Linked DNA regions of Homo sapiens. The protein of the gene in region 2 interacts with the protein of the main gene of each other region in a pairwise test. Each region holds a gene or a part of one and is shown on either strand. Other genes may lie near its edges.

What was found. Proteins that work in one complex are often made in the same cells at the same time.
Region 1: the proteins of CLN6 (region 2) and TEX264 interact in binary tests that used the Homo sapiens proteins (3 or more experiments, as listed by UniProt).

The regions. Positions count from the first base shown.
Region 1 is NC_000003.12:51,681,245-51,688,284, forward strand, and holds part of TEX264 (testis-expressed protein 264), read left to right. Parts: intron 1-97; exon of another isoform or gene 98-141; coding exon of another isoform or gene 142-186; intron 187-3,168; coding exon 3,169-3,390; intron 3,391-3,570; coding exon of another isoform or gene 3,571-3,630; exon of another isoform or gene 3,631-7,040. UniProt on the Homo sapiens protein: Major reticulophagy (also called ER-phagy) receptor that acts independently of other candidate reticulophagy receptors to remodel subdomains of the endoplasmic reticulum into autophagosomes upon nutrient stress, which then fuse with lysosomes for endoplasmic reticulum turnover.
Region 2 is NC_000015.10:68,206,452-68,212,728, forward strand, and holds the end of CLN6 (ceroid-lipofuscinosis neuronal protein 6), read right to left. Parts: intron 5,413-6,277; coding exon 5,224-5,412; intron 4,868-5,223; coding exon 4,812-4,867; intron 3,309-4,811; coding exon 3,186-3,308; intron 1,960-3,185; coding exon 1,689-1,959; 3' UTR 541-1,688; downstream 1-540.

The DNA.
Region 1 (7,040 bases), on a different chromosome or scaffold from region 2:
GTGGAGGGAGAGGAAGTTTGTTATGGTGCAGGGCTTGCTTGTGTGTGCATGCATGTACTGTCACTGAGCATGCCTCAAGAACTTTCTGTGTGCGCAGGATCCTGGACCTTTTTGCCTAGAGGCCTGGAGTGATGGAGAGAGATGGGGAGGCCATCAGTTACAGTGCAGCACAACACCTGCTCCCTGGTGGGTACTTGGGATCAGAGAGGAGGGGCTGCTTGGTGGAGAGCAACAGAAGGCTTTGAAGGGGAAAGTTGAGCTGAGTCTTGCAGGATGGGCAGGAGTTTCCCAGTCAGAAGGGACTCTGGAATAGGGTGAAGAAGGACATTTCAGGCAGAGGAAGTAGCTTACGCAAAGGCAGGAAGCATGGGAGGATGTGGCATGTTTGGGGAGCTGCAAATAGTTTCATGTGGGTGTGTGTGGGGGTGTGGCGGGTGAGGAGGCTGGCAAGGCGGGCTGGGCCAGAGCCTGGATCTGTCCCTCCCTCTGCCATGCAGACACTCAGTTGGTGCCTGCCCACCTGGGCTCTGGCCCCTGCTGGGGCCTGAGGCTGCAGAAAGGGAGTGCAAGGTGAGTGTGTGGGCAAATTCATGCAGTATTATGTGGGCCACTCCAAAAGAGCCTTGCCTATTGGCTTGTGAATTTAGTTTCATCCTAGAGGTAAATTGGGAGCCATTGAGAGGTTCTGAGCAAGATGACCACATGTGTTCTGGTGTCTTTTGGCTACTGAAGAGGATGTTGAGCTGGGAGTCCCATAAGGCCTGCTGAAGCGTTCCCAGGAAAGACCCTGGAACTCAAACCCAGGCAAGCCAGCTGTAGAAAGGAAGAGAATAAGTGACCTTTCATCCGTTTCTCCATATGACTTATGTAGATGTTTCTTTTGCACAGCACAGGTTGGTAGGGTCAGGGACATGAAGATAGGCTTTGTGGCAGGCAGTGTCTCTTGGCTTGTCAGCAGGAGGCCTGCCAGATAACTTCCTGCCTATCTGGTCATTCTCAAGTCTTGGCGTGTGAGTAGGGCAGTTCCACCATCTAGAGACAAGAGATGGTATTGCAGTGATCTCCTGTGCCTCTGGGTGGGGTGGGAGGAGCTTCAGGCCAAAAGAAGTGACTGTGTGCAAGGTAGACTTATGGAGGGCAAGAAAGTTTACAGCAAAATACTGGGGGAGAAGAGAGTGCCACTGAGCCACGCTGAAAGGCTCTTCAAGAGGGTATTTGAACCGGAAGGACAGGCAGGGAGGAGCTGCATATTCAGAGGTTTGGGTGGTCGGGCATTCTAGGCCATGGACAGTTGTTTGGACTGTGTCATAGCTACTAATAACCACAATTATGGGGCATTTGCTGAATGCTGGACCCAGGCTAAGCTCTCGTGAAGTTTCTTGTTTAATATGGCAGTTCTGTAAGTAGATATTGAGGAACTGGGGCTCCCAGAACCCAAGGGACTTGTCTAGAATCACACGACTCAGATTCGCACCGTGGCCTGCCTCTCTCAAGCTGTGTTTCTGACCACTACACCCGGTTGCCTGCTACTAAAGCTCTGAGCCAGGTTTGGATGCCGTAGGCTTCAAGGGGGCTGCAAGGGGACCAGAGCTGCAGACAGTTGAGGGTGACCGTTAGGGTCTGCTTAGAAGTGAGAGCCTGGAATAGGTGCCCAAGTCCCAGGCAAACTGTGACTAAAAGGAAGGCCTGGGTTGGCCTGAGTAGAGGAGGCCATTCAGGGCTGAGAAACCCCCAGGGGATTTCAGAGAGGGCTTGGAAAGGGCTGTAATGGGAGGGAGAGGTGAGAACAGGTAATAATGACTTCACAGTGCTGGGAAGGAGGGCTGGGGAGAGGAGTAAGTGGAGGTAGAGGGAGAAGCCTGTTTAAACTTAGGGGTCATCCCTGTGAAGGTGAACTGCTGGCAAAAAAAATTTTTTTGCGGTGGGTAGGGAGAAAGGAGCCTTTAGAGTTGAGCAAAACCCAGGATTGAGGGTACAAGGTCTGTGCTGAATCTCTTGGATTCAAGATCATATGTCTCTGAGGGCCCAGTCTGAAGGCTGGTACAGACTTAGGCACCTGGAAAGCTGACGTGGGAAACAGGTAGCAGTAGGTGAGACAAAGTGAGGCCTCTTGATGCCAGGAGGAGAAATGAGTACTGGGCCTTGCAGCATTCATTCAGTCCTAGGAAGTGTTGGAGGCTCACATAGGAGCCTTACATGGCTGAGGTTTCTGGGAGCCAGAGGAGGGAAATTAGGTAGGGAGGCAAGCAGAGTGGGAAGTGCAGGCACTAGCAACCTACAGAGATTTGGAGGGGAACCAGTGGTCTTGGCTTTTAGCCAGGAAGGGACTTAGGAAGTGGGATAGGTCCCTGGATGGGCCATGGGTTGCAGAAGAAGTCTAGAGGCTCTGGTGATGGTAGCTGGCCCTGCCAGAGGGGTGGGGAGGATGATCTCTTCACAGAATTTCACCAGCAACCCAGATGTCAGTGATCCCAATCCTATGTCCTGACAGGTGCTTCCTGCAGCCCCTCCTCAGCCACTTGCCAGGTCCTGACCCTGCAAGCATGTGTGTAAACACACACACACGTGTTCTTGCTTTCCTAGGGCATGACCGTGGAGGGCTCTGAGCTCTTTATTACCACTCCTCAGTTTTGCTCCCTTGCCTGCCATAATTTCTCTGCCTGTAAAGCCTGCTCTTCTCCAGGAGATAGGAGGGAAATTAGCTAATAGGATTTTGCTGGACCCAGGCTGCAGGATCAGCCACTGTACAGTTCTGCTGGTGGCCCTGGGGCGTGGGGGCTGACAGAGGGTCTTATGGTGGGGTGGAAGGGCCCCCTCAGTGGAGCCATGTGGAGGGTGATGGTTCAGAGGTCCTCTCCGCCCTTCCCTCTCCTGGCCTCCAGAAGGGCAGAGACCAAGTCTAACCCCTCACTATGATCCCTGGGTTTCCACAGGGCATGGCATGTTTGTTGAAGGAATAGATGAGAGTCCTGTGGTACGATGCCACAGGCAGGGGCCATAGGTGGGTTCCAGTAAGAAAATAGCTAGCTGTGTCCTGGTATCTGGGGCTGCATGGCTTGTCAGAGCTGCTGGTTCTTTTAGGCCTGATCTGGCACAGTCCCAGGAGGAAGGAGGTCTGAGGGCCTCCTTCCTTTGGCCAACTCTCACACCCATGCTTTGCTTCCCCAGGTGCCCCCTGATAAGTGCCGATGTGCCGTGGGCAGCATCCTGAGTGAAGGTGAGGAATCGCCCTCCCCTGAGCTCATCGACCTCTACCAGAAATTTGGCTTCAAGGTGTTCTCCTTCCCGGCACCCAGCCATGTGGTGACAGCCACCTTCCCCTACACCACCATTCTGTCCATCTGGCTGGCTACCCGCCGTGTCCATCCTGCCTTGGACACCTACATCAAGGTGAGGCACAGGCCTGGGGTGTGTGTGTTGGGGACAGCCAGGCCCCTTGGGTGGAGCTGAGGAGGACTGCCTAGAATGGGAGGAAGAAGTGGTTTTGGGAGAGCAGCACCCTGGGGCCCTCATGGAACAGGTACCTGTGGAGCTAGGAAGATGGGCAGAGGTTGTTGGCATCTCTTTCAGATGCCCAAGATCTTTTGGAAGCCGGAGCATATCCCAAGAGCATGGAGAACTTGTTCATAAATCTGATCTGGTTAGTTTGGCTCTGGCTTTGACCAAAGACATCCATAGTGCTTATCCCACACTCCTGGCTCAGATGAATGGACAGGCCACTTTATTCTCATCCTGCTGGAGGCCTGCAAAGCAAGGACCTGAGGCTCCCAGTGTCTGGGCAGGCCCCAGGTAATCATGTATTGCCCGTGGCCCTGCCTGTGCATGGGCTTATACATCTGCTCCCAGAGGCCAGGGCTGGGACAGCAGTGGCAGGCTCTGTTTCCTTTACTTCCTGACTTGGTTACTGGCAATGCTGGCAGCCCAACCTTCCTGGAGGAAGGAGAGCCAGTCACCTGGTCATCTGACGGGTTTCTGTGTCTACAGAAATTTTTTTAAAACTTGCCCTGTTACACATCCCTCCTCCCCTAAACGTTTTGTAAACTTGGTTGCTAGGGAAATGACCCCAGTTTGGGCTTGGACGTGATTGTTCATTCATTTAACTTGTATTTATAGTCTGTGTGCCAGGTGCTATAATGGGCACAATGTGAATGAAACGTTGGTGCATGAAACAGCCATTCACAGTGAGGTGGTGAAGATAGGTAATAAATATCAGACAAAAATAGGACGTGTGCTAGAGAAGGAGAGGGTGAGAAAAGTCAGGGAACCAACTTGGACAGAATGGTCAGGGACAGCCTCTCAGAGGAGATAACCTCAAGGCAGAGTCCTAGAAGAGCCTTTAGAGAGGAGATAAGAACTTCTAGTCAGAGCTTTGGTCTAAATGCAGCAGGAAGTCACTGCAGTGTTCCAACCAGGAAAATAACACAGTTGGAGCCACGTCTGTACAAGATGAGCTGTCCCATCTCTGGGCAGGGTGGGACTGGACCACAGATCTGGGACCAGGTGGAGATGCTTAGGCCTGGGGCTAAGGAATTAGCCTAGGAGGCTGTCATGAATCCCATTGTGAGTGGTGGCAGCTTGGGCAGGCCCAGCGGCTATAGAGCTGTGGACAAGGATGGAGATTTACAATCACTTTTGGGATAGAACTGATAGACTTTGGGTGGATTCACTGTTGTGGAAGGAGAGGCAGTGAGGGAGTCACAGAGGGCTCTGCTCCCCTCTGGCCTGGGCAGGTGGGCAAGTATGTAGTGATGCTTTCACTGACATGTGGGGAACTGAGGGAGGCCCTGGTTTTGGGGGGAAGGTAGCTATTTGGGCTATGTCAGGGGAGCTGCCTGAGATACATCTAAGTTGGGGGGTGTGGAGTCAGCAATGGTATGTGTGGCCTGGAGTTGAGGAAAGGCTGGGCTGGTGGATATATTTGGGGACATCAGCCTGTTGGCAGTATTTGACCTGGGAGGCTGCCCTGTGCCTCCCTGCCTCTGTGGGACCAGGTAGGCAGTGGACAGCCTGTGGCAGCAAAGGCTGCGCAGAGGGCGTGGCCAGTGTGGCAGGGGTCAGGGAACAGGACGAGAGTCAGTGGGAGTGAGAGCCTGGTACACTTGGAGGATCCTTGCAACTTTGTTCACCAAAGCAGCTTGGGGAAAGGGACACAGCGTTGATGATGGAAATGGGAGTTCAGATGTCCCTGGAGTCTGGTGTTGGGGCTGAGGAATGAATAAATGAGGCCCTGGGTCACCAGCTGTGTCCTTGGCGGTCAAAGACAGGTTTGAAGAATCAGGAGTGAGAAGACCTGGAAAGGGGAGGGCTGTCACGGTGATAAGGCAAGGGCACAGGGAGAATAGAGGGGAGTTTCCTTTGTGAGCTGGAGGGTGGTGGCCAAAAGGGGTGTGGGGCAGGATGTGCTTGCCTGGCTGCGGTTGGACTGGAGGTGGGGGCGGGCTGGCTGGTGGTGTGGGCAGGAAGGAAGATACCAGTGCCCTAGGCCTGCTTAGTGTGCTGCCTCTGGGGAGTCCCGCCCCATTTCATTCAAGGAAGGCCTCTCCAGTCCTGTCGGTGCCATCCTCAACCTCATGGGCCCATCTGGAGGGGCACCCCTGGGAAAGAGACTTCTTGGGTTCCAGACCTCAGAACAGGACATGTGGCATGTGGTGTGGTGGTGAGCAACTCAGCCACCAAAGCCTTTTCCTGGCTTCAGGGGTTTATTTTTAGACACCTTTGTCCAAATTTCCCGGCCCCTGACAGCTTCACAAGTTGCCTGGTTTTGACGTCACCTCTTTGATGAAAGCCCTTCCTCCTTCCTCCCCGCTCCCATGGGAGCCTGTCAGCTGTGCTCCTGGAGTGGGGGTTGAGACAAGGAAGCCAGTGATATGGGGGAGAGCAAGGGGCTTCTCCCAGAGACAGGTGTGAGGCATGCTTGTGTGGGCTTGGCCATCAGCGGGGAGAGTAAGATAGAGGCCGGCTGCCCACAGAAGAGGCATGGCCGAAGGTCCTGGGCTTGTTTTGGCAGCAGGGTGTGGGGGTTGCCTCTGCCCCTGTGTTTAGCCTGACCTTGCGTCTTGGGGAACAAAGCCAGGGGAGAGATGAGGAAGGGGCTAGCTCTGTTTGCTGGTCACAGCCTGCAGTGGACAGGGGTGGCCCTGTGCCTCTCTCAGCCCAGGAGACAGCAAGGAGAGAGTATAAGGCTCCCTTCCATCCCTGCCTTCATCTCCCCTGCCCTGAGGTCAGAGAAAGGAGATTACTAATGAGACTAGTTGCGTCTCACTCTTCTAGCACCGACAGCTTTTAACTGTGTGTGCGTGCGCGTGTGTACACCCTTCTTTTTCTCTCTGGATCTGGGACTGCTGTGAAGGCTCTTCAAATGGAATGACAGCAGCCGTCAGCTTTCTGCTTTGGCAGGGGTGAGAGAGGCCAGGAGCCCTGCTGCCAGGAGTTGCGGGGGGAGGACTTGGCAGGCTCACCAGCCTCTCCAGAGGCTAGGTGAGGGGCAGGGGTGAATGGATCTTAGCTTCGGGTTTGGGAGGTGGAGAGCAGCTGCTGTCCCGGGAGTTGCAGATGTGCCTGAGCCTGGAACAGGATTGGTCTCATGGGACAGAGGGACCTGAAGTTCACGGCGAGAGGCCCAAGGAGAAGCACTTGTCAGGACTCTCGGGATTCTGGAAGGGATGGCTGATCTCAGCTTTCCTGGTTTGCATGGCAGCCTCTGGCTCTCTGGCTAGCCTTCCCCAGCTTGGCAGCCTGGCAAACTGCTATAGATGCTGGAACTCTGCCTTTCTCCATATAAACTGCTAAGGGCCCCCAGGCTGAACACTCATTCCCCTGGAATCCATGCGTACTGTGTGACCATCACTCCATATGGAAGATGCCTCAGCTTTGTCAGGCTGCTCCGCTGGAGTCCAAGGAGGTGGCCTCTAGTACAGGAGGAGACCACTCCCCAAGTCCCAGGAAAGGGGTATCTTCTGGAAGCTGCAGGATGGAACAGAGCTTGCTTGAAATTGCAAACCTGCAGAGGGGAGATGGGGCCCAGATGTGAGCCCAGAGCA
Region 2 (6,277 bases):
CCCCGCTCCTTTCCTGACCGCCTCTGTGTGGAAAGTGTGCTTTTCTCCCAAATCACATCCCCAGAATCGCTTTACACCTGTTTCTAGACCCAGAGAATTTTAGCTGGGGACTCCGACTCCTCCCTGTCAGAGTTTGAGGCTCCCCCTCCCAAACCCCATGGCAGGGATAAGAGGAGGGAAGGCTGCCTCTGTGCAGAGGATGGAGAGAAGGACATCAAGGAAAGTCACTTGGGACTCTGGAAGCCTGAAGGCGGCCAGGCCAACATGCTCCCTCTGAATCCCCTTGCCTGTGGGAAGGGGCTCCAGAAGAGATGAGGTGCCTCCTTGGAGTTAGGCCAGTGTGTGCTGGGGTGCCCCGGCCAACTCCCTCCTTATGTGTGTAGGTGTCTCCGGGGGTGACGCACAGATGGAAAACACCAGCGTGGGGCAATGGCTGCGTGAGGGTTCACGATACAGCAACTCACCATGCTGTAGGGCGCACCGTGTGTGCTACACCTCAGCACGAAAGGGAGAAAAGACAAAAAACACCTCTAACACCACTTGGGGCTGTGACTGTATTTACTTCATTCTTGAATCCCGCGTCCCCGTGGCTGGGGGCTGACACATCCCTGGGCACCACTGTGACTTCCTGTGGGTCCCTTCCCTTCTGTCCCTGACTCTGTAGACCCCCCACAGGAAGGGTCCTAGGTAGGGGGAGGTTCCTCCTCCCTTGAAACCCTGGGCCACTCTGTCAAGGCAAAGCCTCTGGGCCCAGCACCTTGTAAAGGCTTTGATGAGAGGAGCTCTGGCTTTTGCTCAGGGCCTTTGGCACCCCACCCTCCAGCCCCCAGGAATGCAGGCGCTCAAAGCCTGTGGCTAGGCTGCCCGAAGCGCGTGCCGCAGTTCTTCTGGAGTGGGAGCAGGGGGACAGAGCTTTGGGTAGAGGAGGGTCACCTGCAAAGCTGGAATGCCAGGGGAGTGGGCGGTGCCTCCAGCTCCTGGGGGCCAGGGTGTCTCCATACCTCATGGGCCTGAGCCTGGGCAGGGGTCTGGAGTGCACATAGCCCCCAGGCAGGGAGAGGGCAGTGACAGGACAGAGCCACTCATCTGTCCCAAAGCTGCACCCAAGGGGTGTCAGCAACCCCAACCTACTGACCTACTTTGGGACCACAGGCCCATCTAGTGCAAATGAGGCCCAGAAAGGAGAAATGCTTTGCTCAACAGCCACAGTAGGCTGACGTAACCTATGTAATGTAGGGTCAGGGTGGGCCTGAGGGATGAGCCAGGTGGTGGGCAGGTGACACACCAGGTCCCCTCCTGGCCTCTGCCCCACCCAGCCCTCTCCTGCACGGCTACCAGAAGATGTCCGGGAAGAACAGACTAGCCCTGAGTAGGGAGTGTGGTCAGGTGCAGAGGAGGGCAGGGGCCCGGATCCTGGCCCAGAAACACTCTAAAACAGAATCCGATCCTGAGATGATCCAAATCAAACAGAAACTTGACGGAAATAGTAGAGTCTGAAAATGATGCACTCTGCGCACACATATACAAGACACACACACACACACACACGAATCCACGCACACGAGGCACACCCCACTCATGCTCTCGGTCTCTGGTTACACACCCACACCCCCCCTACTCCTGTATTCAGATGCCCTCCATGGCCCACCCTCCCACCCAGCAGAGCGCCAGAGCCTGGTGCCAGGGACTCAGTGCCGACTGCTGACGTGAAGGGTGTAGAAAGCCCAGGGCTCAGGGACGTAGATGACACCCGGGTACTTCTTCCTGAGAACAGGGTCATTCCACAGCCAGGCGACCCAGAGCGCCACAAGCAAGAGGGTCAGTGCGAAGGAGGAGAAGAGGAAGAGGCCGTTGCTGTCCAGGAAGAGGCGCTTGCGCTTCTGGTGCAGGACGAGGGCCAGCATGGCGAAGAAGGTGAAGATGAAGAGGATGAAGATCTGGCCCTCGGTGACCAGGTACCTGGAAAGGCCAGGGGTGAGTGAGGCAGCTGCCGTGGCAACCCCGTCCTGCCTGGCATCCCTTCCTGTGTGCGAGAGCCAGGCTGCCCTCCAGGCAGGCAGAAGAGTCCTCTGGTGCCAGGGCTCAGAGAACTATGCCGCTCTAAGCCACAGCCCATGGGCAGCATATTGATTTAGCTGGTATAGTTACTGTTTTTTAAATGTTGAGTTTGTTGCCAATATTTAAATAACAGAATACCTACAAATGTATATTTCTGGCTTCTCTGGTCACATTAAGTTTATACTTCCACACAACAAAAACTGACTAGAGGAGAAAGCAACAAACAATTGCCATTACGACGGCAGCCACCCCCGCGGCAGGATGCCGGGGTAAGAACCAGCAGGAAGCGCTCCCCTAACGTCTTTCCCGCTCACTGTAGCTGCCACCCATTCTTTTTAATCCCCAGAGAGCATACAGATGAGCCCCAGTGGGCCATCTCAGCCACATAGGGGACAGGCCGGGGAGAGGATCTAGAGCTGGCCCAGGAAAGGAGGCCCTTTTCATTTTGAGGGAGGCCTCCCATCAGAGAAGGGTCCAGTCCTGCCCCGACCCTGTCCTTCCCATGATACCCACAATCCCAGGGTGACCTGTCTCCAGGGCAGAAGTGACAGACGAGGGCTAGGAGACTGGCTGAGGCCTAAGTCCTCTGCAATGGGAAGAAGAGAGAGCCAGAGGGAACAAAGACCCAAGGCCAGAAGCCCCTACGCCATGAAACCCCCCAGTCTGGCCTCGCCATAGTGCTTTACATTTGACAAAGCCCCTCTCTGTCCTCAGCATCCTCATCATCTGAGAGGCAGACAGGCAGGTACCATCATCCCCACTTCACAGAGGTGGAAACCGCAGCCCACTACAGGGCTTGGTGTCGGAGGTGGATTGTACCGGCCCCAGGGCAACACTGGGGTTCTTGAGATGGGGCACAGAGCGAGAGGGGCTTGAGGATGGAGACAGACTGTGCAACCTCGCCCTCTCCTCCCACCTCCCTGCCACACCCAGGCCTGGGCTTCATGGAAACAAAGAGGCCACCACAGGGCATTGTCACAGTCCCCACTAGACACAAGAAGAAGCACGGGCCCAAAGAGGGCCAGTCTCCCTGGGGCCACACAGCAGGTCCATTGGCAAGTGCAGAATTTTGCTGCCGTGGCTCTCTCAGTGCCCCTGCCTCTGCCCCCATGCTGATGTCCACTCACCAGTAGTACAGGCCACTGGGTGCCACCAGGAGCAGGGCAGGCCCTGGAATCAAGCTCTCAGCTTTAGAGGCAGTAAAGCAGCCGCTGAAGTACATGAAGAGGATGAGGAAGAAGGGGATGTACCTGTGACAGGAAGGCCAGTGTCTTAGAGGCCTGCTCAGCGGCCCTCTTCCCCACAACCTCTGCAACCACTCCCATGGGGTCTCATGGAGTGCCACGTCACAGTTTACAAAACGCCTAGCCTGGGTGAGAGGCGCTCCTCTCCACCCAACCTTGCCTGTGCTGGGCGTCAAAGGTGGGACAGAAACAGAAACAGGAAGGCAACGCACGTGTGAGTCAGAGGCCCAGAGGCATCCACACCGCCCAGGGCACCTCACTCACTCCGTGGGGGTAAGGGGTGTCTGGGGGGTTGTCTGTCTCATGCACCGCAGACACCAGCAGCCCAGCACCACACTAGCCTGGAGACAGAGGCACCTCCCGGGCTGAGGATGGAGGTCCACATGTTAAAAAAGAGAACAGCACCTGCAGGGGCCTCTTGGTGAAGCACTGCACCCACTCTCAGCACACAGCCCCACCCCCACCTCAGACACCTCACCCCAAAATACTACCCTCTCCCCTCTCCACACACCGGCTCCCTTTCTCCCACCTGTGCTTTCACCAGTATACCCGCCTGCCTCTTCTCACCCACACCCCCTTCCTGCTGGGGCTCCAGCTCTCTGTTCCTAGCCCCTCCACCCTTCCCCAACCTTCTGTGGGAAGAGGCTCTGGCAAAGGCCAGGGAAAGATGGCAGGAGGCCTGTCCAGGGACCCTGGACCAGCTGAGCCAGGAGGATTGACATCGCAGGGCCCGAAACACCCTGGAAATGCCCGTGCAGGGTGCGTGTGCTGTGAGCACCAACTCAGGAGTGAGCCGGGTCCAGGGCTGGCCCTCACCTCCCAGCTGCAGCCTTCGGAGCCCTCCTCCCTCTGGCCTCAGTTTCTCCTGGGTAAGATGGGAGGGTGGAACAGATGAAGCCTCCCAGCCTGGGCCCGGGATCTCCTGAGGCTGAGACCACATTTCTGAGGTCTCCCCCGACTGAGGGACGGGGTAGGTAGGAAAAGGTGCCCCTCTGGGAGTTCTGAAGAGGGGGGAGCGCAAACAGCACGCCCCTCCCCAGCCTGATCCAGCTGGCTCCCCGCAGCTTCCTCCACTCCCAAAGAGCAGGCCCGACACGGGTGGGGGTCCCTGGCTGTGCCCCCACCCCCTGCCATCACCATCTGGGGGTTGTTTATCAGGGACGCGTCCTCCTCCCCCACCCTCAGGGCTCAGGCTTGGCGAGGAAGGACCAAAGCCACTCGCTGCCCTCTGCTGGCCACAGCGGGCACTGAGGGCTGGGCGGGGGTGGCGATGCTGGGGGGATGCTGGCTGGAAGCCGGGGCCTGGAGCCTGGGACAGCAGCTGGGTCTCCCGGGCAACCTCGGGGACAACTTCACTGGAGGTTGAGCTCACAGTGCCTTTACAGGGGATGAGACTCAACACATGGAGACCCGCAGCCCAGACAGCCTTGCTCAGTGTGTCCCTGAGCCAGTGACAGGGCTAGCCGGTAGTTGGGGCCCCTGGGATAGACAGATGGGCCCATCACTCACCACATGCAGTGACCCAGGTACTCATCATAATAGTAGAGCAGCTCAAAGGAGTCGATCTGAGGGAGGAACGGGCAGGGCAGAGTCGGGGGATGTCGATGTCAGTCCAGGGAGGTGCTGGGGCCCCAAGCATCCCCTCTGACCACCCTTCTCCCAGTCCCAGGCCTCCCCCACTGCCTTATTCCCTACCCGGGGCCTCGCCTTCTGTTACAGGGGCCCAGGTGGGAGGCAGTCTGTGCACCACTTCCTAAGAACACTTGAGCATCCTAGCTTGGGGCAGGCGACAGTGCCCTCACCTAGCAGAATGCCTTTGGTGAAAGGACAGGTGCGGCGAGGGGTGGGGGCCATTTCTTCAGCCTCCCAGGACAGACTGTGCTCCTAGGGCTTACAGGCAGGGAGCAGGAGGTGGCCTCACCAGCGTCTCCGGCTTGAGATTCTTGATGATGGGGTTCTCACGGACAGACAGGTGGTGCTGGTAGCCACTGAAGAGCAGGCGGTGGTTGACAGAGTCACCCACCAGGTGGATGCTGGCACCCATGATGAAGATGATGATGCTCACGTACGTGATGGAGCGTGGCAGGGTGCGGGGGGACCGCTCGATGAGCTGGGGTTCAGAGTGGGGTTGGCAGCATGACCCCACCTCTGTCACAGTATGTGACACCCTCTGCTTCCCCCCTCACACCTGGGGTGGGATGGACGCTTCCAGCTGGAATGTCACTCCAAAAAGTGGCTGGTCCCTTTAGCAGGCCAGCCCAGCCTCCAGATCCTCCCGTGACCCCTATGAACCCCGGAGGGAATGTGGAGCAGCACCCCCCGCTGACTTTACCCAGGGAGCAAAAAGACCAGAGGGCCCAACTCCTTTCCCAAAGTCACACATGAGCTGTAGGCTGGAGGGGACAGCCCAGCCTTCAGTGCAGGAGTCCAGGCTCAGGCCCAGCCCTCCCACTGTCCCTGGCTGTGTCCCTGGGTGGCTGGCCCAGCCTGCTGAAGGCACCTTCTGATTTCTGAGTGGTCCCAGCAAACATGAAGAAAATGTCAGGGATGGGGGCAGGTGCTTCTGAAATGCCACTGTTTAACTGAAAACACACCGGAGTTCTGGGATTATACCCCTCCTACTTCTGGAGATTTGAAGTATCTTTCTTCAATACAAAATGATGGTGATAGTAAATGGTGATACAGGCTGAGCATCCCTTATCTGAAATGTTTCAAATTTCAGATTTTGGAATATTTGCATATACACAATGAGATATCTTGGGAATGCATATGCAAGTCTAAACATGAAATTCATTTCTTTCATTTTTCTTTGAGACAGGGTCTCACTCTGTCACTCAGGCTGGAGTATAGTGGCTCAAGAGATCCTCCCACCTCAGCCCCCAGAGTAGCTGGAACTACAGGTGTGCACCATTATGCCCAGCTAATTTTTAAATTTTTTGTAGAGATAGGGTCTTACTATGTTGCCCAGGCTGGTC